Regions from separate parts of the Homo sapiens genome. Here all the other regions are linked to region 1. Evidence: fine-mapped expression QTL. A gene starts in region 1. Each other region holds a variant in brackets. All regions are shown on one strand. Distances are from middle to middle.

What was found. PIP is the estimated chance that this variant, and not a neighbour inherited with it, causes the effect.
Region 2: its variant is the best candidate, but not a certain one, in a credible set for the expression of PVT1 in whole blood (TOPMed, PIP 0.88).
Region 3: its variant is the best candidate, but not a certain one, in a credible set for the expression of PVT1 in Th1 cells (Schmiedel 2018, PIP 0.55).
Region 4: its variant is the best candidate, but not a certain one, in a credible set for the expression of PVT1 in skin (TwinsUK, PIP 0.79).

Annotation. Positions count from the first base shown.
Region 1 is chr8:127,790,212-127,798,130 of GRCh38, forward strand. PVT1 (Pvt1 oncogene) reads left to right here and starts at 4,313. Exons shown (of 9, transcript NR_190187.1): 1 at 4,313-4,523. It overlaps MIR1204 (microRNA 1204), which reads left to right and starts at 5,751; the gene lies at 5,751-5,817. RefSeq lists enhancers at 2,723-3,293, 4,436-5,005, 5,006-5,577, 5,299-5,348, 5,449-5,788 and silencers at 4,019-4,068, 4,089-4,148, 4,159-4,318.
Region 2 is chr8:128,094,206-128,102,124 of GRCh38, forward strand. It overlaps PVT1 (Pvt1 oncogene), which reads left to right. Exons shown (of 9, transcript NR_190187.1): 8 at 2,313-2,449; 9 at 6,775-7,051. Among named protein-coding and RNA genes, the nearest start is that of MIR1207, 49 kb to the left of the region's middle. RefSeq lists an enhancer at 1,612-1,861. The variant G/C (reference allele first, on the strand shown) is at 4,463.
Region 3 is chr8:127,978,367-127,986,285 of GRCh38, forward strand. The region is part of intron 3 of PVT1 (Pvt1 oncogene); the gene reads left to right. Among named protein-coding and RNA genes, the nearest start is that of MIR1205, 22 kb to the left of the region's middle. RefSeq lists an enhancer at 2,120-2,169. The variant A/ATAAT (reference allele first, on the strand shown) is at 4,285.
Region 4 is chr8:127,999,315-128,007,233 of GRCh38, forward strand. The region is part of intron 4 of PVT1 (Pvt1 oncogene); the gene reads left to right. Among named protein-coding and RNA genes, the nearest start is that of MIR1206, 5.6 kb to the right of the region's middle. RefSeq lists enhancers at 1,783-1,922, 2,001-2,582. The variant C/CT (reference allele first, on the strand shown) is at 3,847.

The DNA of each region.
Region 1 (7,919 bases):
GTGGAGTGGTATGATCTCAGCTTACTGCAACCTCCACCTTCCAGGCTCAAGTGATTCTCCAACCTCTGCCTCCCAAGTAGCTGGGACTACAAGGTGCGTTGCCACCACACTCGGCTAATTTTTGTATTTTTTGTAGAGATGGGGTTTGGCTACGTTGGCCAGGCTGGTCTCGAACTCCTGGCCTCAAGTGATCTGCCTGCCTTGGGCTTCCAAAGTGCTGGGATTATAGGCATGAGCCACCACACCTGGACGGCTGGCTTCTTCTTGTTGGTCAAATTATCTAGTATCAATTATCTTCTTGCCCCATTTTCTCTTTAGCTCTCTGCCGAGATTTACTGTCTCAATAGCATTGACCATTGTTGAAATTACCTTGCTTATTGGCTTGTCTGCTTCTTCTGACTAGAATGTCAACCTCACAAAAGCAGGGACTTGGGCTGTCTTATTGCACTCATAGTCCTGAGGACTAGCACAGTGCCTGGCACATAAGAGGAATTTGATAATGTTTGATAAAGGAATGAATGGGTTTTGTAGATAAGGATGCAGATATAGGGCCAGGCATGGTGGTTCATGCCTGTAATCCCAGCACTTTGGGAGGCTGAGATGGGCAGATTACTTGAGGTCAGGAGTTCAAGACCAGCCTGGTCAACATAGTGAAACCCCTGTCTACTGAAAATACAAAAAGTAGCTGGGTGTGGTGGCAGGTGCCTGTAATCCCCACTCAGGAGGCTGAGGCAAGAGAATCGCTTGAAGCCAGGAGGCGGAGATTGCAGTGAGCCCAGATCGTGCCTGGGTGACAGAGCTAGACTCCATCTCAAAAAAAAAAAAAAAAAAAAGAGGATGCAGATATAGAGAAGGTAAAGACTGGTACTGAGCCTAAAATTATTTAATTATAGAACCAATACTAAACAACCATGAGAACTGCATTTACAGAATGGAAGTGGTAATCGAAAGACAATAGCACAACTAGGCTAGCGCAGTGGCTCATGCCTGTAATCTCAACACTTTGGGAGGCCGAGGCGGGTGAATCACTTGAGCCCGGGAGTAAGCCAGGCATGGTGGCACATACCTACTCAGGAGGCTGAGGTGGGAGGACTGCTTGAGCCTGAGAGGTGGAGGCTGCAGTGAGTCGAGTTTGCACCACTGCTCTTCAGTCTGGATGACAGAGTGAGATCCTGTCTCAAAACAAAAACAAAAACAAAAACAAAAACAGAAAACAACGAACAAATACAGGTGAGGTAAAGGGAGATGTGAGAAAATGTGTGAATGTAATAGCAAAAAGTTGCCTGGACTTTACAATGATGAGGCCTACAAGTAAAACATCATCATGCCACTCTTTCCTTGCTTTTCATTATCTTTTCTGAACCTTTGTAGCCTTATTTAGAAAGCAATGCTTCTCATGTGGTAAATAAATATTTAAAACACAACAATTCCTTTAGTTTTATGTTAGCTTCCTTTTCTTCTACTAAAAAAATTAGATTTCTTAAAAATTGCAACTATGAGACATTAACATTGTAAAATATTTTTCCTATCTATTTGTCAATCCTGCATCCATCTATATATCTATATCAAGATCTATGCCTATATGTATCCATCTGTGCCCAAAAAGGCCTCATCTGATATTCAGAAAAATTATTTCTGGCTGATAAAATTTGTTTTTCTTCTCTATTTTTTTTTCTGCAGAGTTTTAATGTTTTACAACGTGTATGTATGTGTGTGTGTGTATATATATATATAATATCACTTTTGCAAGAAGAAAAGTGACTTTTAAAAAATGAAAGCAGGCCTGGGCACGGTGGCTCACGCCTGTAATCCCAGCACTTTGGGAAGCTGAAGCGGGTGGATCACGAGGTTAGGAGATCGAGACCATCCTGGCCAACATGGTGAAACCCCGTCTCTATTAAAATACAAAAAATTAGCAGGGCATGGTGGCGCACGCCTGTAGTCCCAGCTACATGGGAGGCTGAGGCAGGGGAATCGCTTAAACCCAGGAGGTGGAGGTTGCAGTGAGCCGAGATTGAGCTGCTGCATTCAAGCCCGGTAACACAGCAAGACTCCATTTAAAAACAAACAAACAAACAAACAAACAAACAAACAAAACAAAACAAAAGCAGATATACCAAAATGTTTATTTTGGATGGTAGGAATATTAAAATATTATTTTTTCTTTGTATTTTTACTGAAAAAATGTTTTAATTCTAAAAAAGAAATTAATAAAAAGGAAAATGTGAATCTAAGATTAGTGCATGAGAGCTGGAGACCCAGAGAGGGCAAACAGCATCAAGGTCAAAGTTGAGTGAGTCCTGGGTGAAAGTGTCTTTTCAGCCAGGGGAGATTTTCCATGCAGAAGGGACTGGGCATCAACTGTCAGGACATGGACAGAGACGTCTGCCATTAGAAGCTGGTCCTCTCATAGCCCACCAGCATCCCCCAGGAGGACACTGGCTTCCTCAAGGTCACAGCCTTTGGTTTCTGGAAAAAATGATTAAGCAGTGAAAGGATTAAGGTCTCACAGCTCCTATCGCATGATGTATAGATGCAGAGGTTTCTCATCATCTTCTTTTTATATTTTAAAAGATGGATGACAACTAGATGCCAACTGCAGCTCAGGCACCTGCCCAGTCCCTCTCAGAGCCGGGCACAAAACAGACACCTGTCTAGCCCCTCACAGAGAGCCAGGCACAAAACAGACACCTGTCCAGCCCCTCACAGAGAGCCAGGCACAAAGCGGAGACTTGTCCAGCTCCTGGCAAGGAGCCAGGCACAAAAGAGATGCCCATGAGTGTAAATGAATCTGTGAAACAGGCAGAACAGGAGCATCAACTGAGTAATTGTTTTTTCTTTTTCAAATAAGAACATTTGCGTTGAGAAGCCGCCACGGGAAGAGATGTGATGAAACACTACACAGAAAGAGGGAGGAGCCTCCGGGTAGGTTGGAGTGAGTAGGATGTAGGGTAGCCGGCAGGGGAGAAGAGGGGCAACCTTCTGTTCCGTAATATTGATACCACCCATTTGTGTGTCCAATTTTTGCTGGTTTGTGACGTCCTTCTAGGGTCCATGAGTAACCCCCACCCCATTGCCTAGCTGGGTGCCTGACTCCCCTTAAGTGCTCAGTAGACGTTGAACTGGACGGGCGCTGGCGTGGTGGCTCACGCCTGTAATCCCAGCAATTTGGGAGGCCGAAGCGAGTGGATCATCTCAGGTTCGGAGTTCGAGACCAGCCTGGCCAACATGGTGAAACCTTGTCTCTGCTAAAATTACAAAAATTAGCTGGGCGTGGTGGCGCGCGCCTGTGATCCCAGCTACTCCGGAGGCTGAGGCAGGAGAATCGCTTGAACCAGGCAGGCGGAGGTTGCAGTGAGCCATGATCGGGCCACTGCACTCCAGCCTGGGTGACAGAGTGAAACTTCATCTCTAAATAAATAAATAAATAAATAAATAAATAAATAAATAAAATAAACTTTGAACTGAACAGGGGCAGCTCTTACATCTGTCCAGTCTCGGGTTTATGCAGATAGAACAAGATAACCACATCCCACATGGGAGGCCAGTGTCCACTTGCTCCTTTGGAGGAACTACTGGGCATTTAAGGGACTCGTTGAACACACTCTGTAGGTCAACTCTGCCCGGAGTGGAGGGAGCTGCGCAGACCGCTGGCCCTCTGCACGGGTTTGCAACTCGGCTTCTGGAAACAGCGGGAGACGTCGAAGGAGGCGAGAAGGTGCGCGCGCCCTTCTCACCAGGCCGGCGGATGCTGGGTGGTACCCAAAGAGGCGCTCAGATCACTGGAGCTGGAGCTCAGTCGGCGGTCTTCTGCGGGAACTGCACCTATCCCGGAGCATCTCTGGCCCTCCTATTTCACTGAACTCGCCTTCCTCAGCAGGAAAGTGGGAAGACCGCTTGCTTCCAGGACGGTGTGGGGAAGGGTAAGAGGGCTCAGGGAAAGACCGTGGAAAGCTCGGCGCACAAGCGAGCTGGCATCACCGGGGATTCCCTCCGGCCCGGTGGGACTCCGGCGCGCTTGTAGCGAGGACCCCCAGCCCAGGGCAGAGCCTACCCTCCGCTCCCCCAGTCTGGGCCCTTGGCGGCCGCAGTCGCCCAAGCCCGCCCCGCCTCCGCGCGCGGCCCTCTCCGGCTCAGTGCCCTGCGCTGCCGGGAAGCAGGCTGAGGGGCGCACCGGGCGGCGGGCGGGGACCTGGGGAAGGCCGGGAGCGCCGGGACCGAGGACGCACGCGGCGGGCCGGGCCGCGCGCGCCTCCCCCCTCCCCCGAGGCCCGAGCGCGAGCCGCCGTGACGTCACGGGCAACCCGCCAGCCCCGCGCTCCTCCGGGCAGAGCGCGTGTGGCGGCCGAGCACATGGGCCCGCGGGCCGGGCGGGCTCGGGGCGGCCGGGACGAGGAGGGGCGACGACGAGCTGCGAGCAAAGATGTGCCCCGGGACCCCCGGCACCTTCCAGTGGATTTCCTTGCGGAAAGGATGTTGGCGGTCCCTGTGACCTGTGGAGACACGGCCAGATCTGCCCTCCAGTAAGTTCCAATTTTGTCCCCTGCGTTTCTGGAAACTCTCGAGACTTGGCCCTGAGTAGGGATGCGCTGTGAGTAGTCGGACGGAGGAAAGGGGCTTTCGGAATCCAATATGTGTGTGCTAGGCGTGCACTGTCCTCATCACCAGCCTCAAGACTGGTGGCGAGTTTGGGCGTTTGGGGAGGGTGAGGGGAGGGGGATGACACCGAATGGCCGGTGCATAGAGGCAATTCTGGATTTATGAACTTGATCAAAGGCATATTAACTAATTTCTAAAAATAGACCCCTCTGCAGTCAGAACAGATTTGGAGCCATGATGTGGTTTGGAGGCCCCTCTGGCGAAACTAGAGGTCTGTGAATGTGTGATCCTCCCTCCATCCTTTGACCATCACTCCCCGCTTCCTCTCACACCCCCTCAGGGCTGGGCGAAGGTGATTTCCAAAAACTCAGTAACTCCGTGTTTTGAGACTTTCTCAGTTTTTGCATCGCATGTGAGGGTTTGTTGGGTGCTCCTAAACCCTCATCATGGTCATTCTTCTTGGCTGGGCTGTTGATTTAATTAGGTTTGCCTTCTCTTGCTAACGTGCTCTTATTTATGCCAGTGTTTGTGGTTCTGGGTGTAGACTTTCAGGAAGCACAGCCATGAAGCTGCATGCGTCTGTGTGTGGATGCCTCATGCCTTTTCCTGGTGGTTTGCAGGCATGGAAGATTCTTCTGTTCATCTAAGCTCCTGACTTTAGGCCCTTCTAGAACATTAGAGAGGAGAAGAAATCACGTGCAAGGATTTAGGGACAAGAGGATGAGGTTTTGGTGTTTCCTTTCTGGTATTAGGTTTTCCAGAGAGAGGCTGTTAGCCTGTCTCTCGCCCACTCCACCACTGTGAATCCTGGCTACTGGGGCTAGTTCCTTGCTAGGAAAAAAAAACTCTAGAGAAATGTGTTTGTGTGTGGTGGGTGGGCGGGGGCCCTGAGGATGCAGGGACTGTGTCTGCTGTGTTGTCTGTTATAAGATGTTTCAGACCTATTTTGCATACTGGCAGCGACAAGTTGAGACTTGTTCAACTTGACACAGTCCTGTGGTCATAGCGAATCTTTCTAAAGCTCTGATCAGTCAAGAAGGGGGTTGTATCAATCCTCAGAACCCTGAGTGGAACTTTCTACAGGATTTATTAGGAGAAAAACCTTCCCGGAAGCTGCAGAAGGACAAATACAGAATCCGTGTCTGGGAGAAACCTCGTGGCCTGGTCTCCATTATTTGAGATGAGTTACATCTTGGAGGTGAGGACGTGCCTCGTGGTCTAAAGCTTCGGCACAAGGGCCCAACTGGAATTCCACTTACGGGTATGACTGTGGGGTATATGCTGTACCCATTGAATTCCCAGAGGGATTTGTTAAGTGGTTGTGTTGCTGTTTTGCCTGGTTAAGAGTGGCTTATTCTTGTTGCCTCATCTATCTTGAGTGCAGAATTTTTGCATAAACGGCTTCTCTTGAAAAATAGAAGTCCGTTTTTGTTTTGTTTTGTTTTTTTTCTGATTAACTTTCCTTTTCCTCTGTCTTAAACACCTTCCCCCGCCCCTCGCCACCTCCATGCTGTGTTTCTGTGGCTGGAGCTTTTCTGCACTGGAAAGGAGGAGTTCTCCCCTCTGTTCTGACATATCTGATCCCCACTAGTTTATATGATTGCTGGTCTGAAAACCTGGTGAATTCTCACTGCCCACATCAAATCAATTCCCTGTTCTTTAGTTGTTTTTTTTTTCCGCCTCCTGAGCGGTAGGCAGGCACTCTGGCTGGATTCTGGAGCCTGTGTTTGCCATGCCTGGGCCTTCTGCCTGCCCAAGATGGACACGTTTCTCTGGCAGCTTTGTCAAGAGATCTCCTGGACTATAAGACACCCTGTTCTTTCCTCCTGTTTGTGTGAGTGGCCCTGCATTTGGGCAGAGTATTGGCAGAATATCTGGGGGAAGTGGAAGACTTTGGATAGTTGCCGGTCCAGGTCGTCTGGAGAGGCAGTGGCAGGCCTGCTGATGGCTGCCCCTTTGCTATTTGTTTTATATCAGGTGGCCCTTCTGGATGTGTGGCCTTTTTATTTTGCATTTCCTTTCATAGTTGGCTGCAGACATAAGATTCTTCTTTTTCTCTTGTTTTGCTTTTTTTTTTTTTTTTTTGAGACAGAGTTTCACTCTTGTTGCCCAGGCTGGAGTAAAATGGCTGGATTTCAGCTCACTGCAACTTCCGCCTCCCAGGTTCAAGCGATTCTCCTGCCTCAGCCTCCCAAGTAGCTAGGATTACAGGCATGCATCACCACACCCAGCTAATTTTGTATTTTTAGTAGAGACGGAGTTTCTCCAGATTGGTCAGGCTGGTCTTGAACTCCCAGCCTCAGGTGATCCGCCCGCCTTGGCCTCCCAAAATGCTGGGAGGCCTCCCAAGTTGCTGGGATTACAGGCATGGACCACCATGCCTGGCTAATTTTGTATTTTTAGTAGAGACGGAGTTTCTCCAGATTGGTCAAGCTGGTCTCGAACATCTGACCTCAGGTGATCTGCCCTCCTCGGCCTCCCAAAGTACTGGGATTACAGGTGCCACAGTACCCGGCCTTGTTTTGCTTTTTATTGTTTCCTGATGCAGGTTTGTGATCTCTTTGAGGGATCAGGACCACACCCCCCACCCCAATTTATATTCCCAGTGTCCATGGTGGGACCCTGACTGAGGATGGGAACAGAGCAACAATCTGGAATCATTTGGACCATTGAGTCCTGTGGACAGTCACTTCAATATCATCCCTAGAGAGTCTCAGAAATTCAAGGCCTTTTGGAATGCTGCCAAAATGGGTCCTTTGGCAGGAGCCCCCTTTGTCTCTTCTGTTTTCTGACCTCAAATAATCTAAGGAACTAATAACGGTAATAAATAACAATTAATAATAAGAACAATAATAGTGCATGTATAACATGGACATTGTTTATCACGCAAAGCATGTTCTTCACCTTCTACTCCCTACAACTCCATGAGGCATTTATAATGAAATGTCTAGCAATGGTAGACTTCTTGTTGTGGGGCAGGGTTGGTTCTAACACTTCAAATTATATGATCTCATTTAACTTTCCTATAAAATAGGATGATTATTGTTGTGGTTTTGCAGATGAGGAACCCACAGCCCAGAGAGGTTAAAAATATCCTCCCAGGTCACACAGCTTGGGAGAGGCAGAGCTGTAGAGATTTGGACCACAGTCTTCGACTTCTTAGTGTGACTCTCAGAAGTTAGAGGATAATGAGGTTAAGAACAAGCAAAGGGCCGGGCGCGGTGGCTCACACCTGTAATCCCAGCACTTTGGGAGGCTGAGGCAGGTGGATCACCTGAGGTCAGGAGTTCGAGACCAGCCTGGCCAACATGGTGAAACCC
Region 2 (7,919 bases), 300 kb after region 1:
TACAGCTTGCACATTAAGGATTTTTGCTACTTTTTAAATGATTTTTACATAGAAAATGTTACATTTTTAAATGTAAATGTAAATTAAATGCAAATATAAACATTTACATTTTTAGATGTTTAAATAAAAAAATCACAAGAAATGTAATTTTATAGCATGAAAATTATAGGAAATTCTATCATTAGCACTTGTAAATAAAGTTTTATTGGCACACAACTATGCTTGTTCATTTATGTATTGTCTACATAAGCTATAGTTGGTGTGTGCAGAGCTTTCACTCAATGATGGCACAGTTGAGTAGTTTCAACAGAGATGGGATGGCCCAGAAAACCAAAATATTTACTACTTGGCCCATTACAAAAAAATTTTGTGCTGATCCTTGGTCTGTGAAACAGGAGCAATGATGAATACCTACCCATCGTGTGTGGGTAAAATGTTAAAGTGCTTGATATCAAGTGGGCACTCAAGAAAAGTTTTTCCTTCTACTCTCTATTCCTCCCTGTCTTCATTCCCTTTCACAGAGGGCTCTTTTATTTCAGGGTCCAAGCCATGAAAACCATAGAAAAAGGATGACAGGGAGAATCTGAACCAGTACCATGCCCATACCAGGCCTCAAAACAGCAGAGCTGTGTTTGTCATCTCCACCTTCCTGCTCCAGAGCCTCCCCAGACCTCTCAGTCTATGGGACTGTTGGTGGACAGGCAGAGTTTAAATCCATTGCGTCTTTTGCGTCTCGTGGTTCCAGATGTGGATGGGGCCAGCCCTGCATGACCAGCCCCGGAGAGCAACTTCTATTAGGTTTATCAGAGGCTGGACAGCGTCCACTGCATCTTTTCTTGCTTTGGGCGTTTTAAAACTTGGGCTGCTGTTGCATAGGAGATTGCAGCTGCAGTTTGGCTTGGCTTAAGATAAGATGCAGCCTCTGGGCTGAAATTGAGGGTCCTGATTCTGCTTTGAGAGATGGTATGGCATCCTGAAAAGAACCGAGATTTGGAATCTGGGCTGGAATCCCAGCTGTGCCCCTCACAAGTTCTAGGATTCGTACCTTTTGCTTTTTCTGAAAAGTGGGGGTGATGCTTTTTCTTGGGGTGAGGGTGGGGTGTTGGCAGGGTTCTCCACCACGTAAGCTTGAGGGAGCAGGGTTTTGTCTTTTTCTGCACTGAAGCCCAGCTTCTAGAACAGTGCCTGGCTGCGGGTGAGCACTCGGCAAATACCTGCCTTAGAAAGGTGATTAAAAGATGTAGAGTTCCTGGCACACGATAGAATCTCATTAAGTGGTCACATTGCCATTGTCTGTACTCAACCAGGAATTGGCACACTATGGCCCACAGCCTGTTTTTGTAAATAAAGTTTTATTGGAACACAGCTATGCCCATTTCTTTACATATTGTCTGTGACTGCTTTCCTGCTATAGTGGGGGAGTGGAATCGTGAGACAGACCTGTGCCCTGCCGAGCCTAAAATATATATTGTCTGGCTCTTTACAGCAAAACTTTGTGGTTTCTGCTCTGAATGTCAGGGTAACCCTGTCTGAGGATGATCACGGATTTCATTTTCCCTTGTTTGTTAGCGTTGCGGTCAGCCGCAAGTTGAAAACAAGGAACCAGCTTGAGGTACGCATTCTCGATGCCCTTTCTAAGATACTTATGGAGACTTTTCTTTTCCACTCCAATTCTGCCATGCTCTTTCGGCATGGTCAGAGCTGGCTTCTCTGTGCCCTCCAGATCTCATATGTAAGATGGTGTTACTTTCATTTCTTTGTAAAAAGAAACTCAACCCACCTGTCAATTGCTGGTATATTCATTAGGGATTAACCATGGGTCCTGCAACAAGTAGGCTCAGAGCACAGAGGACATGAGTCAAAATAAAAAAAGATAACCAACCAGGTACAACTGTGCTTTGTAATATTATAGAATAGAATGCTGATGGGGTTCAGGAAGGAGTCCACTGTGTTTGTGGGGCACAGGATACATAAGATTCTGATTTACTTTTCCATCATGGTGAATGGCATGATCTTAGACACCTTAGTTAGCTTTATTCAAACTCAGTTTTTCAATCTGTAAAATGGCAATGTTCACTATATGTTGTCACTCTCTTTGATGGGCAGGGCCCACAGTTAGGAGCCTCTCGAGGCCTTGGTATCTAGAATGGTGAAGGAGAGCTTTCTGGAATGAGTGAACATGTGTCAAATGCTCTGACGTCCTCATTTGAAGGGGGCCCTGTCCCCTGTACCAGCTGAGCAATGCGAGTGGGCCACTGTCCTGCTACCATTTTATAGTCAGCGGATCTTTTTTTTTTTCTCTTTCTCTCCAGAAGGACAGAATAACGGGCTCCCAGATTCACAAGCCCCACCAAGAGGATCACCCCAGGAACGCTTGGAGGCTGAGGAGTTCACTGAGGCTACTGCATCTTGAGACTCAGGATGAAGACCCAGCTTGGGGCTGTCAAAGGTGCGACCTGCCAGCTGAGACCTCCAGGGGTCGAGCCCAGGCCCCTTTGCCTTGTTCATGGCTTAGGCCAGTGCTTAGCATATAGTAAACAACTTGTAAATGTTTATTAGAGGATGTATGGTGGGTCATCCCTTCTGAATGGCACACAGTCCATTGTCATTGTCCTCAGAGGCTCCAGCCTCAGGTGCTTCTTAAACTGCGATGGGAATGATGGCAGCAGATGGGCCCAGGGCTCAGCATGAGAGCTCACAGCAGGCTGTGCTCCACCCCACCCAGGCCCCCAGTCTTGCCATGTTTCCTCTGCCTCCCCAGGCTGGCCTAGAAACTGCTTCCAACTGAAACCAGCCAAATGCCTGCCCCTAACCACACCTACAACTCTAGGGTTACCTTTAGTCTAGATCAGGGGTCCTTAAACTGTAGCCTTTGCTGGGTACAGTGGCTCACACCTGTAATCCCAGAACTTTGGGAGGCCAAGGCGGGTGGATCACTTGAGGTCAGAAGTTCGAGACCAGCCTGGCCAACATGGCGAAACCCCATCTCTACTAAAAATACAAAAATTATCCAGGCATGGTAGCGCACATCTGTAATCCCACCTGCTTGGAAGGCTGAGGCAGGAGAATCACTTGAACCTAGGAGGTGGAGGTTGCAGGGAGCTGAGATAGCGCCACTGAACCTCCAGCCTGGGCGACAGAGTGAGACTACTTCTCAAAACAAACAAACAAACAAAAACTAAGCCTTTGGGCTAAATCTGGTGAGTGTTCTGTGCTTGTAAGAACTCTGAGTTAAGAATAATTTTTATGTCACTAAAGGGTTGAAGAATACAAAAAGAATATTCAGCAGAGACCATCTGGCTAGCAAAGCCTAAAATATTGACCCTCTGGCCCTTTACAGAAAAAGTGTGCCAGTCGCAGGATTAGGCAGTACTGACCACACCCCAGGCTCCCTGTGAAAATTTCAACCACACAGACTCATTTCCTTTCTCTTATCAACACTGAGGCAGGTGTGATTATCATTCCTTGTAAACATGGAGAAACTAAGGCATGGAGAGGTTTAACTCGTTTACCTGAGAATCTATTAAGTAACAGAGCCAGGGTTCAAACCCAGGCAGTCCAGCTTCAGAGTCCATACTTCCTAGCTGCACTCTGGGCCTTCAGCGTAGGGATGAGCTTCAGACAAGAACTCCCCTCTTAATTTCTGCCCTCTCCTGCCCCACAGCCAGTGGACAGGCATTTTGCACCCCAGCCTGCCCCCAGCCAGCTCCTACTCAGAGATTTCCTGCAGGGACTTAGACGAGGCTCTGGGACCACCCTCCTTTTCTGCCCTACCCGGCACCTGGAACTCTGCTTGATCCTGCTCCCTCTGAGGCTGGACACATCTCCATGAGCCAGGCCTGAAGTTCTTCCCCTCTCTGGACCTCGGGGCCTCCCTTCCTAGGGGCAGTTCCTGTGTCCCCTCTACTCTCTGCCTTCCCCCCGCCCCACCATGTCCTTGGGGCTGGAATTGTAGTGTGCAGCCTTGGGAACAGGGCTGGGCTCAGGGGTTGGGAACAGAGGCCCAGGGCTCTGGCTGACCCTCTCTCATCCCCAGGAGGAGAAGCTGCTGTGTTTAGAGTGTCACAAAGAACAGTGCTGGAGGCTTCAGAAATCTCGGGAGATTCTGAACTTCTAGGCGGAGCAGATGGGATGGTGCCTCTGTGATCAACAGGCCTGGCAGAGGGGTGCAGGAGGGGGTGCGAATGGAAAGACAGCTGCCAAGGGGAACGGAGAGCTTTTCAAGTCACCCTTGTCCCCTCCCCACCCCACCATCAGGGCTAAGACTAAACCTCACCATCCGGTTGCGGCCTCTCGGCCCTGGGGATGGAGATTAGTACATGTAGAGTGGAGGTAGAGAGGCCATGTTCTGGTTGTGTGACCTTGCACAGGTTACATAACATTCTGTGCCTCACTTTACTTGTTTTTAAAATGATGAAGATGATAACTACCTGGCAGCGTGTCTTATATTAGAGATAATATG[G/C]TTCCTGGCACTTTGTAAGCACTCGGTGTGAAATTGTCTTCTGCTGCTCCTCTTCATCAGTCCACCCCTCCTCTGCAGAGGTTTCCTCCATGCTGAGCAAGCTGGCAGCACCTAAATTCCTGTTAGTGCACCCTAGTGCCTTCTGCCCAGGCCTCGGGACCCCCAGGGATCCTGGCCCCTGTGGACAGGGACTTTTGTGCCCTCCTTCTCTGTTACCAGCAAGAGTGAGTCCTGCACTGAATTTCCATGGGATCATTGCTTGCTAACATTTGTGAGTGAGTTACTGTCTAGAAAGCAGCTTTTCTGGACTTTTCCCATTAATTTCACGAAAGTTATCTTCCTTTGCCCTTACTACATGTTCATTACTACAGGTTCATTACCCCATTTTACAGACAATTAATACTCCGAGATGAAGTGACTCACCAGGGGTCGCCTAGCTAAGCAGTGGAGAGTGGGCCTCCCACCCAGGCCTTCTCACTCTGACTCCTGTTCTCCACGTCATTGCATATGGCGACATGCGGGTCACGTGATCACACATCCCTAGCCGATATGGAATTGTGAGCTTCTCCTGGGTCTTCCGAGGAAGGATGCTTTCAGGAGTGCTTTGGAATGAAGGCAGTGGAGGCCAAGAGACCTCTAGGTCAAAGCCAGGCGGGAGGGTCCTCTCAGGGGCCCAGCCGACAAGTTGCATTTCTCCCTCAGAGGCCTGAAGAGGCAGAACACCCCAGAGGAGCCTGGGGCCACCACCCAGCATCACTGTGGGAAAACGGCAGCAGGAAATGTCCTCTCGCCTGCGTGCTCCACCTCGGTCCACGCCTTCCCTCCTTCTGGAAGCCTTGCCTGACCACTGGCCTGCCCCTTCTATGGGAATCACTACTGACCTTGCAGCTTATTATAGACTTATATGTATGCAGAAATATAATTTTAATTACTTTTATATTGCTCCGAGAGTGATACCAAATCATGATAGAAAATTTAAATAAACAAAATAGCCAAATTAATACCAGTAATCACCCCAGTCAAATATACCCAGCTCACATTTTGATGTAAAATCTTCCAGTACAGTTTCTATGTACATATATATATTTTTAGGAAGGAGATTATATTTTACATGCTGTTTTCTAGAACGTTCTTTTAAAACTGTATCATAAACATCTTGCCTTATAATTCAATAGTCTTCTACAACAAACTTTGCTAATGAATTTTTTTTTTTATCATGGTCACTGTTGTGTTATGTGCATCTTAGTTTAGCATCTTCAGTTACGTTATAAGTGTCTTAAGCCCTCAGGTTCCCCAGCCAGCCGCAGGGTGGGTTTGTTCATTGATTGATGGCTGTATGGGGTGGAGGAGGGAAGTAGAAAGTGAGTGAGATTTGGGTAAGCAAACCTGGGTTTAAATGCTGAGTCTGCAAATTCCATAAATTCTCCTTCCCTCCCTCCCTCCCAACCTTCCTCCCTCCATCCCTCCCTCCCTTCCTTCCTTCCTTCCTTCCTTCTTTCCTCCCTCCCTTCCTTCCCTCCTTCCCGAAACAAATGCCTTGTTAGATATTTTATATCTTTATGTAAATATGCACTCATTTAAATATCATGTGGGCACCTCCTCTGAGTGGCCCTGAGCTTGGTTCTTGGATGTAGCACTGCACAAGAGAAACCAGGTCTCTGCTCTCCTGGAGATCGATGCATCCAGTGTGGGGCACAGACTCAAATCAAGGCAATAGACCAAAACCTAAGCAGGCCACTAACTTGTGTTTAAGTACAACATCCACATGGACGGGAATGAGAATTACAGGGGGAGCACACTTGAGCTGCGGTCCAGCAAAGCCCTCTCTGGGGAGGTGACAGTCAAGCCCAGACCTAAAGGAACCTGCTGCAGGGAGGATGGGAAAGATGTTCTGACAAAGGCCTTGAGATGGGGAAGGCTATGGTTTAGATGAGGAACTTCAGTTGGTCATCCCCTCTCTCATCCATCCTGTTGAAACCACCTTTGCAAAAGGTGTGTCAATGAGAAAATTATAACAGTAAGCTAAGCCAACCCAACCTCCATCTTGCCTTTCTCTTAATTATTCCTGGGCTATTGGGTCAAGCTAACTTTGGAAGACATTTAGGCTACAGTTTAAATGATAATAGGCCTTGCCCAAAACTCAGCCACTTTTGTAAAGCTGTTAGGGGGCCATCAGGGTGCGGGGAGGAGAAGAGCCTGAATCCTACTAAGCTGCAGACATTATTCCGAAGGTTATAAGATATGCAACTTTCCCAATTGCTCCTGTGAATAACACTACTATTACAGATTGGCCTTTTGAAATATCTTTCCAGGTTTTTTGCATGTCTGACACCCATGACTCCACCTGGACCTTATGGCTCCACCCAGAAGCAATTCAGCCCAACAGGAGGACAGCTTCAACCCATTACGATTTCATCTCTGCCCCAACCACTCAGCAGCAAGCACCTGTTACCTGTCCACCCCCACCCCTTCCCCCAAACTGCCTTTGAAAAATCCCTAACCTATGAGCTTTGAATAAGATGAGTACGAACTTCATCGCCCACGTGGCGTGGCCGGCCTCGTGTCTATTAAATTCTTTTTCTACTACAATGCCGTGGTCTTTCTTTATGCAGTGGGCAGGAATAACCCCTTGGGCAGTAACAAATTTGGGGTCTCATGTGGGATTGTGCTGGTGGCTACCTGTGTATGATTCGGTAGCCCCCCACTGGCAACAGGCCTGGAGGCCAGCTCAAACGGCTGCCTAGTTCTCCTGGCAGAGAGATGGGGGCTGACTCTGGCACCATCTCTACCGGCGGGACACTGCTGACCATGGTGCATGGATGCAGTGGGCAGGAAGAATCTCTTGGGCAGTTATGCTATCTATCCAGTCCATCTGTCAAATGTATCCAGACTATGACCTCCTCTCACTTCTTGGTCGAAGCCACCCTCATTCCTGCCTGGAATTTTTGTAACAGCCCCTGGGCTGGGCTCCCAGCTTGTGCCTTTGCCTCTCAGTCTGTCTTCAAAACAGCAGCCAGGGTGATCCTTTGAAAGGGCAGCCAGAGCTCATAAGCCCATTTGCTTCAAAACCCTCAAAGGGTTCCACCTAATTCTGAGTAAAAGCCACAGGCCTCACTGTGGCCTGCGAGGCCCGTGGGATGCAGCCCTGTGATGTCTCTGATCACGTCCTCGTCCTTTCCATCTCATTTCGCCCTGGCATCCTGGCCCCTTTGTCATAACTCAGACCCTCCAGGCATACTTCTGCCTCAGGTTCTCTGCACCTGCTGTGTCCTCTCTAGCCTATTTGTCCACTTCCTCATCCCTTCTCAGTCTTTGCTCGGGTATCATCATTTCCATGAGGCCTTCCCTGGCCACCAGATTTAACACTGAAACTTCCCCACATCCCACGAAGCTCACTATGCTCTTTGCTGGTTTTATTTTCCTCCATTGTTCTTGGTGTCTCCTAATGGGTTCTACA
Region 3 (7,919 bases), 190 kb after region 1:
CCAGGCTGATCTCAAATTCCTGGCTTCAAGTGGTCCTCCTGCTTTGGCCTCCCAATGCACATTCCTGAGCCACCACATCCAGCCTTAGTTGTCATGTTTTTGTTTATTATTATTATTTATTATTATTATTATTAAACGGAGTCTCGCTCTGTTGCCCAGGCTGGAGTGCAGAGGCGGCACAATTTCGGCTCACTACAACTTCTGCCTCCTGGGTTCCAGTGATTCTCCTGCCTCAGCCTCTTGAGTAGCTGGGATTACAGGCACGTGCCACCACACCTGGCTAATTTTTTTGTGGTTTTAGTAGAGATGAGGTTTCACCATATTGTCCAGGCTGGTCTAGAACTCGTGAAAACAGGTGATTTGCCCTCCTTAGCCTCCCAAAGTGCTGGGATTACAGGTGTGAATCACCGCACCCGGACCATTATTATTATAATTTTTTTTGGAGACAAGGTTTTGCTTTGTTGCCTAGGCTGGAATGCAGTGGCAGAAACATAACTCAGTGTATTCTTGAACTCCTAGACTTAAGCTGCCTTGCTAATGTATTTACGTGTGTGTCTGTGTTTGTAGGTCTCACTATGTTGCCCAGGCTGATCTCAAACTCCTGGCCTCAAGTGACCCTTCCGCCTTGGCGGTTGCCATTTTTAGCATTATTGTTATTTGGACATTGTGATTAATACTTTACACAAATGACACAATTTAACCTGTACCAAATAATCATCTTTCATTTATTGTCTAACAATAAACTCAACCAAATGTGTAAGTTCATCTATCTATTTGTCCATCTGGTCATCATCTAATCACCCAACAGAAGTTTTACCAAACTCCTTTTTTATATTAGGTGCTAGGTGAACAAAGTTGAAGAAAATGGGTCTCTAACTCAATGAGCTGGGATTCATCCACGCATTCAAACGATCACAAGTGTTTGCACACTGCTCACTACCCTTGCTTGTTGATGCCAGCCTTGAGTCCAGGCTTTCCATCCTTGTCAGCAAGGTGTTCCCACAAAGTAGCTCCCATTTGCTATGATATGTTTGCCCTTCTGGTCCTGGAACCTTCATCTTGGTGACACAAGGCCTGAGCATCTGTCATATAAACCTTTGCGATGCAGGCTGTGTTCTCTAGGAAACAGACGCTAAGATGTAGATTAGCAAGTAGGATGTTTATTATGGGATTCCTTTGGGATCAACAGCTGTGAAACTGAAGGAGAAGAAACCATAGTTGGGCAGAGGGAGAAGTGGAGCTGTAACAATGTCCCAACAAAGGCCAATGCCAGAGGAGCCTGGGAGCTAGACTGATCCTTCAGAATTGTCCTGAATTGAGGTGAGGGTTGATCAGTCATTTCATGTGCCCCCGACCCCACCACCCAAAGGATGCCTAATCTTGAACAAGGTGATTGTATTCGGCCAAGGCAGTTCCCAGAGAGGGCTGATAGCTGATGGTCATCTGCCAGCACTTTAGTAACTGCTTTAGAAGAAGCCTGGATGGAGAAACATCTGCTTTGTTTTTTTGTTGTGGTGGTGGTTTGTTTTCAGTGAAAGGGTCTTGCTCTGTCACCCAGGTTGGAGTGTATTGGCATGATCATAGCCCACTACAGCCTTGATCTCCTGGGCTCAGGCGATCCTTCCACCTCAGCCTCCCAAGTAGTTAGACCTACAGGTCCATACCACAGCATCCGGCTAATTTTTAAAATATTTTTGTAGAGATGGGGTCTCACTGTGCTCCCCAGGCTGGTCTTGAGCTCCTGGCATTAAGCGATCTTCCTGCCTCGACCTCCTGAAGCGCTGGGATTATAGGTGTGAACCACTGTGCCTGGCCAAATATCTGCTTTGCTTACCATTTTATCCCCAGTATCTAGTACATAAAAGCACACAGTATTGGGGGGAATGGAATTACCTAAGCTTTACGGAAGCACTGTGAGTAATTCATTTAGCAAATATGTATATCTATTATGTTCCTATGACATGTCAGTCACGATTACTACCCTTACGGAGGTTATAGTCTAGGGGGTTTGGGCTGAGCGGTGGCTCAACACTGACTTCCTGGAAGAGGCAACCTGCATACTGGGGGCGTGACTTCCTGGACGATGGGCTCTGGGCCAGCGTTGGGCTCAGTGTTTCCTGGGTTCCCTAGAAGGTGGCTTATTGAGCTGGAGACTTGAATGGATATGGGATGTTTTCTCAGGGAGGGGGCTCTCTGTTGCAGCCCACCTCTGGGCGCACCTGTCCACCATAGGAAATTCCCTGCTTCACTTACCTTCATTGACGTTTGAACTCCCAGGAGCCTGGAACTTCCCCAGGTGCCCCATTGGCTTGGTGACTTTACATCATTACATCAGTTGAGTAATTGAAGAATGGAGGAACCATTCTTTTGAGCTAAGTGGAAAAATATATTTTCTCCTCTGTGAGTCACCAAAAACTACAGCTTCTTTTTTTTTTTTTTTTTTTTGTTTGAGACAGAGTCTCGCTCTGTTGCCCAGGATATAGTGCAGTGGTGCAATCTTGGTTCACTGCAATTTTCACCCCCTGGGTTCAAGTGATTCCTTGCCTCAGCCTCTTGAGTAGGTGGGATTACGGGCATCCACCACAACACCCAGCTAATTTTTGTATTTTTAGTAGAGATGGGGTTTCACCATGTTGGCCAGGCTGGTCTTGAACTTCAGACCTCAAGAGATCCACTGCCTTGTCCTCTCAAAGTGCTGGGATTATAGACGTGAGCTACCGCGCCCAGGCTTAGAGCCCAGCTTATACCCAGTTACTTAGCTTCTGTGTGTGTGTGTGTTTGTAAATGAACTATTATATTTCAGGAAGTTCCTAGCAGGGAGGATGAGATGGAATCAGTGAATTTTAGATCTCAAGGAGAACTAGAGATTGCTTGGTCCAACCTCTTTCCTCTGCAAGAGGGCCCTTGTGGGGAAGGGACTGGCCAAGGCTACCCAAAGAGCTTGGAGAGAGGTGCAGGGCATGTGACCATGTGCAAAGCATTTGCCAGTAGAGTTCGGCATTTTTTCCTGGCGCGTTCACCTCCTGACAGGGCACCAGGAAGGTGCTGCACAGCCTGGCATGTGGTGGGTGGTGTTTATCTGCACAAGTCACCCAAGTGATCAGAACGCTTTTACGGAAAACAATGGCTTTGATGTTCTGGGTGACAAGACCAAAGCATGCTGGCGGGAAGGGAGGTTTTTGGGGTTAGAGAAATGAAAACTATTTACATTTAGGGCTGACTTAATAACTTAACACCTCTGAAGTGGGAGGATGTTTTTGAGGGAAAGTTGAATGTAAGTGTAGTACAAAAAGGAAAGTTTGAGGTAGAAGACTAGGAGTGGAAATACTTCTAATGGCTCAGGGAAAACGTCCTGGTAAGGTTGAACTTCCAGATGCCTCCTTTCTTCCCACACCCCCACTGCATCCTCTGTTTCTACGGTGAGATTTGCATGGCACTTTACAGTTTCCAAAGCATTTCCTCACATATTATCTTCTTCAGTCCTCCCAGGAGGTGGTGCCACCAAAGGCTGTCTGACCACACCTGCGGCTTTTGGAGGGAGCTTGGCTTGGAACCCAGGGTTCTCTGAGTCAAAATCCTTTTTTCCTGGGACAGTGGTGGTCCTCACATTCCCTTCAAGACTATAGACTTTAGAAGCCCAGTCTCTGGCGCTAGACTTCCTTCCTTCACCTACCAGGCTTCTCCCTCTGCAGAGGTCTTGGGCGCCTTTTGTGACCATTCTGTGACGTGGTTTCTTGAAATGTAAGATGGGGATAATGTGAGCACCTACCCACCTTCTTGGGTTGTTGTAGGGATGAAAACATCTTCACAGTTCCTGGCACCTATTGGAGTTGGATAACGATGTTAGGATTACTTGAGGCTGGCTTTCCTACCTTGTTTTAACAGCAGCTCTAGAGTTTCAGAAACATAAGGACTGGACTTTTGGTGATCAAATCTAAACACTCTCCAGTAAAATCAGTGATGCTGCTGACTCTGAGTCTTTAATCATTCTAGTCTCTTCACCCTCTGAAAACAAGAGGATGTGTAGCATAGTGAGCAACAGCTGTGTGCCGGGGACTCAGCATTAAGTAGCATGGGATTACTCATGACTTCGCACTCATGGCAGCCTCACAGGTAACTTTGTCAATTTCTTTTTTTCCTTTTATATTAAAAAAACAAAATGGCTGGGTTCAGTGGCTCATGCCTGTGATCTCAGCACTTTGGGAGGCAGGGGAGGGAGGATGGCTTGAGCTCAAGAGTTCCAGACCAGCCTGGGCAACACAGTGAGACTCTGCCTCTACAAAA[A/ATAAT]TAATTAATTAATTAATTAATTAATTAATAAAATAAATGAATCAATTAAAAGAATTAAGAAAAACAAAACAAAACTTTTTGAATCAGTAAAGCATTTACAAGACACAAAATCCAAAAGGTATACAAAGTTTTCCAATGAAGACTGCCAACCCTCATGTCCCCAGACCCCTGTTTCTCCTCCCTGGGACACAGTTGTTGCAGGTTTCTTGCTCCTTCTTCCTGAAAGAGTCTGTGCATTATTGAAAAGAAGATGTGTGTCCATGAGTACATCTACAGACGAGTGTTGAGCACCTGTTGTGCACAGTGGTGGGGGCAGTGTGATGGGAGTACACAGGGCAGGGAGACACGGGTCTGGGCTCCCCTGAAGTTTGCAGCCGTATTAAGGGCTCGGCCTTACAGTGCGTGGGGCCTCGGCTTCAGAGGAAGGGCTGATCTTGGGGCTGGCTGCTGCTTGACTTGGAGTACCTGCCTCCCTCTGGCCTCCTGTTGAGGCAGCCTGGGGTCAAATCCCAGCTCACCTATGTGCCAGGCTGCTGGATGGCTCGGATGTGGCCTAATTATTTCCTGATGGCCCTGCCAGCCTGGCCATGGGCTGTAGGAACAGTAGTAGCCATCCATTTTTCTTTCTTCTTCTTGGACGGAGGTGGTGGTTCAAATGAAATTTCAGCCTTACCCTTTGTAGTTTTCTACGTAATAAATCCTAACATCTGTGATTAAGGTGACATAGGTTTTTTTGAGAAAGGCTTTGATTTCTTGCTTGCATGGATGGTTAATACTCCAGGCTCTTCAGGGTGATTCTCGCCCTCTTGTTCTGTAGCTTGTGGTCCTTATTTATTTTAATATAATTTAAAACTTGCAGAAAAAAATTATGAACATATGAAGAACTACTGCACACCCAGATCATCAGTTGTTAACTCACACTCCACCCCACCACCAAATACGCTATTTTTTCCTGATCCATTTGAGTAAGTTGTAGACATGCCCTTTCATCCCTAAATATTCAGTGTGTGCTCCCCAAGGATAACGACATTCTTTTACATAACGACTGTATAATTATCAAACTCAGGAAATTTAGCATTGCTGCAATTGTATTATCCAATCCTCAGGCCACACACAATTTGATCAGTAGTCCCAATAATGTCCCTTTTGACTATTTTTTCCCAATTATGGATCATTATTGCATTTAGTGGCTGTGTCTCATGTTCCCCAGTCATACTTGACTTTGATTTTTTTTTTTTTTTTTTTTGATATAGAGTCTCACTCTGTGGTCCAGGCTGAAGTACAGTGGCATGATCCCAGGTCACTGCAACCCCCACCTCCCGGGTTCAAGTGATCCTCCTGCCTCAGCCTCCCGAGTAGCTGGTATTACAGGCGTGTGCCACAAAGCCTGGCTAAGTTTTGTATTTTTAGTAGAGACGGGGTTTCACCATGTTGGCCAGGTTGGTCTCGAACTCCTGACCTCAAGTGATCCACTCACTTTGGCCTTTCAACGTGCTGGGATTACAGGCGAGAGTCACCGCACCCGGACGACTCTGACATTTTTGAAGAGTCCAGGTAAGTTGTTTTATAGAAACACTCCTCAGTTTGGGTTGAGACTGTTATTTTTGAAAGCTCATACTGCACCACTTGCTTTAATTCTGTAATCCTCAATGGTCCCCTATGGCTGCTGATCACGTCCGCGTCTCTGTAGATAAGAAAACGGAGCCATCGGGAAGTAGAGTGGTTTGTCAATAGTCACATTCCCAGCAAGTGGCAGAGCTAGGATTCAAATCCAGACTATCTGTCCTGAAACCTAATTTGCCTACCAGGCAACAGGAATAAGGACAACAATTAGACCCTGAGAATAACAAAGTGTTTATCAAGCACCCACTCTGAGCCAGAGGTTGTGTTGAGCACTCTGCAGACACTGCAGTACAATACTCCCATCCATCCCACCCCAGTCCAGGAGCAGCTGTTTTATGTTGTTGTTGTTTTGAGACAGAGTTTTGCTCTGTCGCCCAGGCTGGAGTGCTGTGGTACAATCTCAGCTCACTGCAACCTCTGCCTCCCAGGTTCAAACAATTCTCCTGCCTCAGCCACCCAAGCAGTTGGGATTACAGGCATACGCCACCATGCCCAGCTAATTTTTGTATTTTTAGTGGAGACAGGGGTCTCGCCATGTTGGCCAGGCTGGTTTCTTTCTTTTCTTTTCTTTCTTTCTTTCTTTCTTTCTTTCTTTCTTTCTTTCTTTCTTTCTTTCTTTCTTTCTTTCTTTCTTTCTTTCTTTCTTTCTCTTTCTCTTTCTTTCTTTCTTTCCCCTTCCTTCCTTCCTTCCTCCCTCCTTCCTTCCTTTCTTTCTTTCTCTTTCCTTCCTTCCTTCCTTCCTTCCTTCCTTCCTTCCTTCCTTTCCTTCTTTTTTTTTTTGACAGATTCTCACTCTGTCGCCGAGGCTGGAGTGTAGTGGCGTGATCTCGGCTCACTGTAACCTCTGCTGCCTAGCTTCAAGTGATTCTCCTGCCTCAACTCCCCGAGTAGCTGGGATTACAGGTGCCTGCCACTGCCCCTGGCTAATTTTTGTAGTTTTAGCAGAGACAGGGTTTCACCATCTTGGCCAGGCTGGTTTTGAACTCCTGACCTCATGATCCTCCCCTCTCGGCCTCCCAAAGTGTTGGGATTACAGGCGTGAGCCACCGCGCCCAGCCTTCCAGGCTGGTTTCAATCTTCTGGCCTCAAACGATCTTCCTGCCTAAGCCTCCCAAAGAGCTGGGATTACAGGTGTGAGCCACTGTGCCCGGCTGAGTAGCTGCTTTTTTTTTTTTTTTAATCCTCGATTTACAGATGAAGACCAGAGAAGCTAGGCTGACTTCCCATGTTGACACAGCAACTAACTGGTGGGGATCAGCTCAGAGCTGGGCAGACTATGCACTTCCCACCCTGCCCTGCACCCCATGCTCGGCTTGCTGGATTTGATAGAATCTAGCAAGCGTGGGGGCCAGGCTCTGCTGACTCCCTGTGAGAAGCAGTGTCTGTTTCTGTGTCCTTTTCTGGGGCCTTCTCCAGAGGGAAGGAACATATCCCAAAGCTGGAGCTTGCACTCAGGAGCTTCCCAGGGGAAACTGCTCCACTCTCTGCCATCTACAGCTCTTGCAGGTACCATAGTCTACCTCCATGATCTATTTGCAGTGGGCGATGGTGTTTTGATGATTTCCACATCATGAACCCAAGTGCTGTTGCTGATTTCGAAGCTTGTTCACTGTCTCCTGCCAAGTGGCCAAGGGCTCCTACCCTAGCCCTTGGTGGCTGCTCCTGGCTGCCATCTGCCCACCCAGTTGGCCCCACTGCCTGGGCCACGTTCTGGTGGCATCCAAGAACTGGTAGCAGAGATGGTGATTAGTCAATGTGTGTTATACCCTGGGTCTCTCCATCTTTCCAACAGAGACCTGCCTTACATGTAGGACTGCCTCCCCTTGTTCAGGTTACCTAGCCCTTGTGCAATTCACCTTCTGATTGGAGAAGGAAGACAATACGGCCCTGCCTCTCGGCCTGTAGAGAGGAATGGATGATGTGAAACTGTGGCATGCTTGATATTCTGCTGGCAGAGAGGAGAACAGATGTTAACACAGAGCACACCTCTGCCCCGAACCTCCTGGGAGCCT
Region 4 (7,919 bases), 210 kb after region 1:
TAAATACATAAATAAATAAATGTGTGTATATGAATCCATGTGCATGCACGTATGTGTAAATATTTCTCCAGGTATCCATCTTATCTATGTTAAGCTAACTATGAGTTTATACTGCTGTCTCCAACTCTAATTCATTACCACATTTCACCCATTTTTTTTTTTTTTGAAATGGATTCTCACACTTTCGCCCAAGCTGGAGTGCAGTGGTGTGATCTCGTCTCACTGCAACCTCGCTCTCCCAGGTTCAAGCGATCCTCCTGCGTCAGCCTCCCGAGTAGCTGGGATTACAGGTGCACACCACCACACCTGGCTAATTTTTGTATTTTTAGTAGAAACGGGGTTTCACCATGTTGGCCAGGCTGGTCTCGACCTCCTGACCTCAGGTGATCCACCCACTTCAGCCTCCCGAAGTGCTGGGGTTACAGGCGTGAGTCACCACGCCCGGCCCCCATCCACTTTTAACAAACTTGTTTTCTTTTTGCCCACATTGACTGACAAAAGAAGGTAATGAACAGAGATGTTGGAAAGTTCACGTGGGGCAAGAGGAGTGGGCTGAGAACATTGGACTTTTCCCTATGGTCAATGTGGCCTCATTCAACAAAAATCAAGATGAGTCAGATGCATGTAGAAAGAGACTCCGAAATGTGTCCTGCCTAGATGTTTGCAAACCGGGACTCTGTGTTATGCTCACAGGCCTTTGAATGTGTCTCTCCCTGGGCTTCATGTGCCCTTGCTGGTTTCTGGACTGTCCTGTTCTGCTCCTGTCCTCCTACTGACAGCCTTTCCTGCTTTCCTTTCCCTCCCATGCCACTCCCACTCCATACAACCTCTTCCCCTGCACACTGCTCCTAGAACCCCTTGGTTAGCCCCATCAGGGATGTCCCTGCTTTCCTGGGACCCGAGGCACACAGAATGAGGATGAAACAGTTGACGTATCATGTAGTATCCCCCACCTGGCTTCCTTCTCAGCCAGGCGTCCCAAACTCAATTGTCTGCAGAGGCCAGGCAGGCAACAAAAATAAGTGATGTGGGCCTCCTGGGCAGTCAGGAGGGCTTGGTGCAGAACTGGAAGCACCAGAGGTAGCAAGGAACCAGGAGATCAGGCCAGCACCTGCTCTGAATGGTCAGGCACCTCCATGGTTGCATAGCAAATCAGTTGTTGAGAAATGTTTTGACTATGGTCCTTGTGTAGGCCCAGTATAAAGGGGGAAATGGCCAGTCTGTGGCTGCTGATTATGGCCCTGAAAGTCTGCAGGCCCAGAATGGCCAGACCTGGTTGTTCAAAGGAAAACTGGCAGGTGGGAAGGGCGGAGGGCCTTGCCCCTTCCCATTTGCCTCCTGTGCCTGACAGTGTCACCGTAGCAATACTTTCCTGGCAGCAGGACTTTGTCCCATAACAATAGTTGATTTTAGTGTGTAGGGCTTTTGTTGTTGTTGTTTATTCCATACTTGGAACCAGCTGCGTTGTGCTACTATCAGAGATGACAGCCCAGCCTGGAGCTCTGCAAGGTCCTCCAGGCTTCTCAGTTCTGATCATTCCACCAGCAGATCCCATCACCAAAGGGGTGTACTTGCTTCATGCAGCTGCTGCTTCTCCCAGACCTCATTGTCCCCCTTGTGCCTTTTCCATGTTCAATACAGGATTTGTTTTTTATCTGAAATTCTACCCGTTAAAACATTTGGTATGTTTCCTCTTCTCTTGTGAGGTGTATTTCTGTATTTCCTACCTTTGCATCCTTTGCTCAGTTCAACTTGAAGCAGGTTTCCAAGCTCATCACTTGGAGGCCCAGGGCATTGCCACTGCCCCCCACCCCACCGCCTACCGCCCACCTGCAGGTCTGTGCCAGGAAGCCCTGCGTGCTGTCTGCACCCCGTTTGGCTGCTTGCCCACAACCATGACTGCTCCTGAGGGGCTCGCCAGCAGCACTGTTTCCCAGCCTGCTGTGCATAAAGGTGACGCTTCGGGTTTTCCACAGTGAACAATGGTTCCCAGAGTGGGCAGGACTCCCTAGTGTCTGCAAGGGTGTGTGACCATGCAGGGTGGAAACAACCTTGTCAAAATAAACCAGGGCAGTGCTGAGGGGGGAAGTGAGGCTAGCTGGGGGGAAATGTGGGCTGAGTGCTTCTTGGGGGGTTTCCTCTGTACCGGTGCCCAGCTGCCCAAGGGTCCCAGAAGGCAGAGGCTGACACACTTCCTGTGACCCTTTCAGACTCGCCATTGGCCCCCACCAGATCAGGAATCTGTTTTCCCTTGTTGACCTTGAGCCACTCACAGAGTGGGAAAGGTTTGCCTATGGAACGAAAACAGTCCTCCTTCCATGATTTCCCCTTTGCTCCCATGTTCATCCATGTGGGCTGCTGTAACAAAATCCCATAAACTGGGTGGTTTACAAACAACAAAAATTTATTTCTCATAGTTCTCAAAGCTAAAAGTCCAAGATCAATGCGCTGGGAGATTTGGTGTCTGGTGAGAACCTGCTTCTTGGTTCAGTGTCTTCTTACCGCGTCCTCACATGGAGGAAGGGGCGAGAAAGCTTTCTGGAGCCTCTTTTGTCAAGGCACTAATCCCATTCATGAGGACTCAACACTCGTGACTGGATCGCCTCCCAAAGCCCCTACCTCCAAATCCCATCACCTTGAGGGTTAGGATTTCAACTATGAACTTTGGGGAGACACCGACATTCAGACTGTAGCAGCTCCCCAGCACAATCCTGCTCGACCGAATTCACCTTCCTGACCAGGCACGTCAACAATCTTTCTGTCCCTCTGATGCCAGAACGTTATGTTTCTGAGGGTGAAACTTGAGTGATTAATTGACAGTATTCCTCAGGAATCCTTGCTGATTGCTGAATGCATAAATGAGTGAAAGACCTGGATAATCCCCAACAGGCGCCTGAGTCTCACATCCGCCCTGGGTGATTCCCCATGGCCAGGGGCCCACCTCGGTTCCCAGGGATCCATGGGCATGATCATTGTGATGAGCCACTACTCTCCAATCTGGCCTCTGCACCTGTGTGACATTTTCCTCCCATTGCTTTACATGTTACTCTTTCTTATTCAGTAGGATGTGCAGATTGGTCAGGGTGTGTATTAGTTTCCTAGAGCTGCTATAACAAAGTACCACAAACTAGGTTGCCCAAAACAACAGAAATGTATTCTCTCATAGTTGTGGAAGCCAGAAGTCTGAAATCAAAGAGTTGTGAGGGCTGTGTTCTCCCTGCAGATGCCCAGAAAAATCCTCCCTTTCTCTCTCCCGGCCTCTGCTGGAGGCTGGCCATCCTTGGCGCTCTTTGGCTTGTCATTGCATCATCCAAGTCTCTGCCTCCATCCTCCTGTGTCCTCTCCTGTGTGTTTGTGTCCAAATTTCCCTTTTCTTAGAATTGCATCTTCTCTAAACCAGCATGACCTCATCATAACTTGATTACATCTGCAAAGACCCAATTTCCAAATAAGGCACATTCACAGGTTCTGGGAGTTAGGACTTCAACATAACACTTCTGGGGACACAGTTAAACCCACAACAGAGTATAAGGAGAAAATGTTACAACTTCCTTTCTCTTCTTTTTTTTCCTTTTCTTTTCTTTTTTTCTCTTCTTTCTTTTTCCTTCCTCCCTCCCTGTCTCCCTCCCTCTCTGCCTCCCTCCCTCCCTCCCTCTTCCTTCCTTCCTTCCTTCCTTCCTCCCTTCTTTTTTCTTTCTTTTTTTGACGGAGTCCTGCTCTTTGCCCAGGCTGGAGTGCAGTGGTGCAATCTCGGCTTGCTGCAACCTCCATCTCCCAGGCAGGTTCAAGTAATTCTCCTGCCTAAGCCTCCCGAGTAGCTGGGACTACAGGCACCTACCACCACAC[C/CT]TTTTTTTTTTTTAGTAGAGACAGGATTTCACTGTGTTAGACAATCCTGCCTCCCTCCCTCCCTCCCTTTCTTCCTTCCTTCCTTCTTTCCTTCCTTCCTTCTTTCCCTCCTTCCTTCCTCTCTTCTCCTCTCCTCTCTTACCCTCCCCTCCCCTTCTGTCTCCTCTGCTCCCCTGCCCTCCCTTCTCCTCCTTCTCCTTCTCCTTTTTCTTCTTCTCTTTGTTGTCCAGGCTGGAGTACAGTGGAAGGATCATGGCCCACTGTAGCCTAGACATCCCAGGCTGAAATGATCCTCTCTCCTCAGCCTCCCAAGTACCTGGGACTACAGGTATGTGTTCCCATGCCTGACTAGTTTTTGTATTTTTTGTAGAGACAGGATTTCATCATGTTGCCCAGGCTGGTCTTGAAGATATCTGCTTGCCTCTGCCTCCCAAAGTACTGGGATTACGGGTGTGCGCCATTGCGCCTGGCCTGTTGATTTCTTTTTTATAAAATGTCTTTGTTTTCATCCCTGTTATTATAATAATAATATAGGCATTCATATGCATATGTGTAAATTATAAGTGAGTTCTTATATAGATTTGGGGGACTATTCTCCAACATGACTGATGAGGGCATAGTCAAAAGACAAATTAATCAGGCCACCAGTCTGATTTATGAAGCGTCTCTGTCTTTGTCTATTTGGGCTGCTATAACAAAATATCATAGAATAAAGGGCTTAGTTTATTTTCTTACTGTGCTAGAGGCTGGGAAGTCCAAGGTCAAGGTGTGAACTGATTCAGTTTCTGGTGGGGGCTCTCCTCTTGGCTTGCAGATGGTTGCCTTCTTCTGTGTCCTTACATGGTTGTAGGAGCAGAGAGGGTTCTCTGGTGTTTCTTCTTATAAGGACACATATCCTTTCAGATTAGGACTTCACCCTTAGGACCTCGTTTAACCTTACCAACCTCCATAAGGTTTCTATCTCCAATAAAGTCACCTTAGGGGTTGGGACTTCAACATATGAATGCAGAATGGATGCTGGCACCTTTCAGTCCACAGCAGGCCGCAACTACTGTATTTCATTGTACAATAAGATCCCCTTGACTCTTGTGAATTATAATGAACATTAGTCTGTAAAGCAGGTCCTTGTAATCCAGCCAGTTTGTATACAGTAGGTAATCAAGAACTATGGATTTACTGGGTTTATTGGGTGGGGGAGAAGGGAGGGCTTTATTCAGGTGCCAGCACTTCTTCACCTTTCTCTACATTTGCTCATCCTGGAGGTGGGGTTGAGCTGGGTCTGCCTTGTCCCCTCACTTCCCTCTCTGCCGAGAGAGTCCTGAGCCCACCCATTACTGGTAGCAAAGCCCGGGGCACAATCTCCGTTTTCCTATTTGTAAAATGGAGCTAACAGTAGTACCCATCTCATCAGATGGCTGTAGAGATGAAATGAGATAATGTATTTGTGGCGTTAGGACAACAGTGGTCCTGCTACAGGGAGAAGCCTGGGCCAGGAGATAGACTAGTCTCCAGATACCACTGAAGTAGCCTTTCGAATACCAATTACCTGCCTCACTTTGCAGCTGTGCAGCCCTGAACAAGTTACTTTCCCTCTCTGATTTTCCAGTCTTTGTTACCTGTAAATGTAACAATGCCTTTCTCTATGTTGTTGCGAAGTCCACATAAAGTGACATGAAATTGATTATAAAATACAACACAGGCTGGGCACAGTGGCTCACGCCTGTAATCCCAGCACTTTGGGAGGTGGAGGAGGGCAGATCACTTGAGGTTGGGAGTTCAAGACCAACCTGACTAACATGGAGAAACCCCGTCTCTACTAAAAATACAAAATTAGCCAGGCATGGTGGCACATGACTGTAATCCCAGCTACTCGGGAGGCTGAGGCAGGAGAATCGCTTGAACCTGGGAGGTGGAGGTTGCAGTGAGCGGAGATCACACCATTGCACTCCAGCCTGGGCAACAAGAACAAAACTCCATCTCAAAAAAAAAAAAAGTTACAACACAAAGGTTGGCAACTATCACTAATAAGTTTGACTGGGAAACCTCACTACTACATTTGTATTGTCTTAGACCAAGCTTGTGAGATTTTTTTGTTATTTGTTTTTGAAGCTCATCAGCTATCGTTAGTGTTAGTGTATTTTATGTGTGGCCCAAGACAATTCTTCTTCTTCCAATGTGGCCCAGGGAAGCCAAAAGATTGGACACCCCTGTCTTAGACTTTTAAGGAGCTGTGACTGAAGGATGGAGACTGGGCCAGGTGGGGCTTGGTGCAAGTTTAAGCTCTTAGGTCATTTCTAAATAGCAAACCTCTCAAATAGCATCCAACAGATATGCCCTAGTCTTGTCGTCTTTCCCCTGCTATCTTTTGTACATGTACCTTCTGCTGACTGCAGTGTGTCCTGGAGCCCTGACTTAGTTAAACCTCAGAACATCCCTCTGCATCCGGATGCATCCAGTACTCTCGGTTTGTCTGGCTCCTGCTGTACTCCCTGCATCTGCCCAGCTGCTGACACAGCCACATATGGCTTCCTTTGCCCCAGCTTTCAGCATTCTGGTGGCTTGTAGTGCTGAGTGCTAGCAAAGAAAGTGGGTACTCTCACACACTGCTGCTGAAAGGTGGAGGGTGATGAACAGGACCAACAGCTCTAAAAGACGTTTCAAGGCCAGGTGTGGTGGCTCACACCCGCAATGCCAGCACTTTGGGAGGCCAAGGCAGGCAGATTACTTGAGGTCAGGAGTTCGAGGCCAAGCAGCCAACAAGGTGAAACCCCATCTCTACCAAAAATACAAAAATTAGCCAGATGTGGTAGTGCGCGCCTGTAGTCCCAGCTACTCAGGGGGCTGAATAAGGAGAATCACTTGAACCTGGGAGGCAGAGGTTGCAGTGAGCTGAGATTGCGCCACTGCACTCCAGCCTCAGTGACAGAGTGAGACCTTGTCTCAAATAATAATAATAATAATAATAATAATAATAATAATAATAATAATAAAAAGATAAGGGAAATTTGGGCAGGACTTCTCCAAGTTTAGAGTATATGCACCCTTTGGCCCAGCAATCCCACTTCTCGGAGTCTGTACCCTAGAAATAGTGAGGGAAGTTTCAAAAGATATTTATTCAACAGCATTAGTAATGTATCAGAACCTTGAAGACAGCCTAGCTGGTCAACAGTACAATGCTCAGTTGCCACTATAAAGAATGAGATGCTGTGTCCTTCTCAGTGCCTCAGATCAGGAGGCACCTGGTGTTGGCTTGTCACATTACTAATGATGTTTACTTCCATCACTTGATTAAGGTGATGTCTGCCAGATTTCTCTACTGTAAAGTTTCTATTTTTTTTTCTGTGTAATGAATAAGTATCTTGTCAGGAGATGCTTTGGACCTATGTAAGTATCTTGTTTCTCATCACACTTTCACCAAACTAATTTTAGCATTCGTGGATAATTCTTGTCTGAAACAGTTATTACTACAGTGTGTGCCAAACAGTGATTTTCTACTTCCATCATTACTCCTACATTTGTCAATTAAAATGTTACTATAAGGAAGATATTTTCTTTTATATTGAAAAAATGCAATTTTTTAAAAATCAGTCTGGACTCTTGGATTCTCATTATATTGGTTATAACCCATGACTATAATACATTTTGTGCTCAGATTTTTCTAGATTTTACATTGGGATGCCCTTCAAGTTGGGTTCTATGTATTTTTGCCATTTTACTGTTGTTTTTTGAGCACTGCCTTACCTTTTGACCCCACAAGATATTCTAGGCTCAGTGTACACTTTGCCTGGTCCAGCCCTGGAATCAGCCATTGCTGCTGTGCTATCCTTGACAGAACTATAACCTGAATTTAACAAGGAGGAAATATCAGGCAAACACAAATGGAGTGACATTCTAGTTAACAACTGATCAGCACTCTTTAAAAATGAAAGACAAAGAATGACTGAGGAATGAGTTCAGATTAAAAGAGACGAAGGGACACGCTCCAACTGTAACTGCAACGCATGACTGCGGGCTGCGTTCTGCATTGGAAAAAAGTGTTACTGATGAAATTTGAATATCGTCTCTAGATTGAG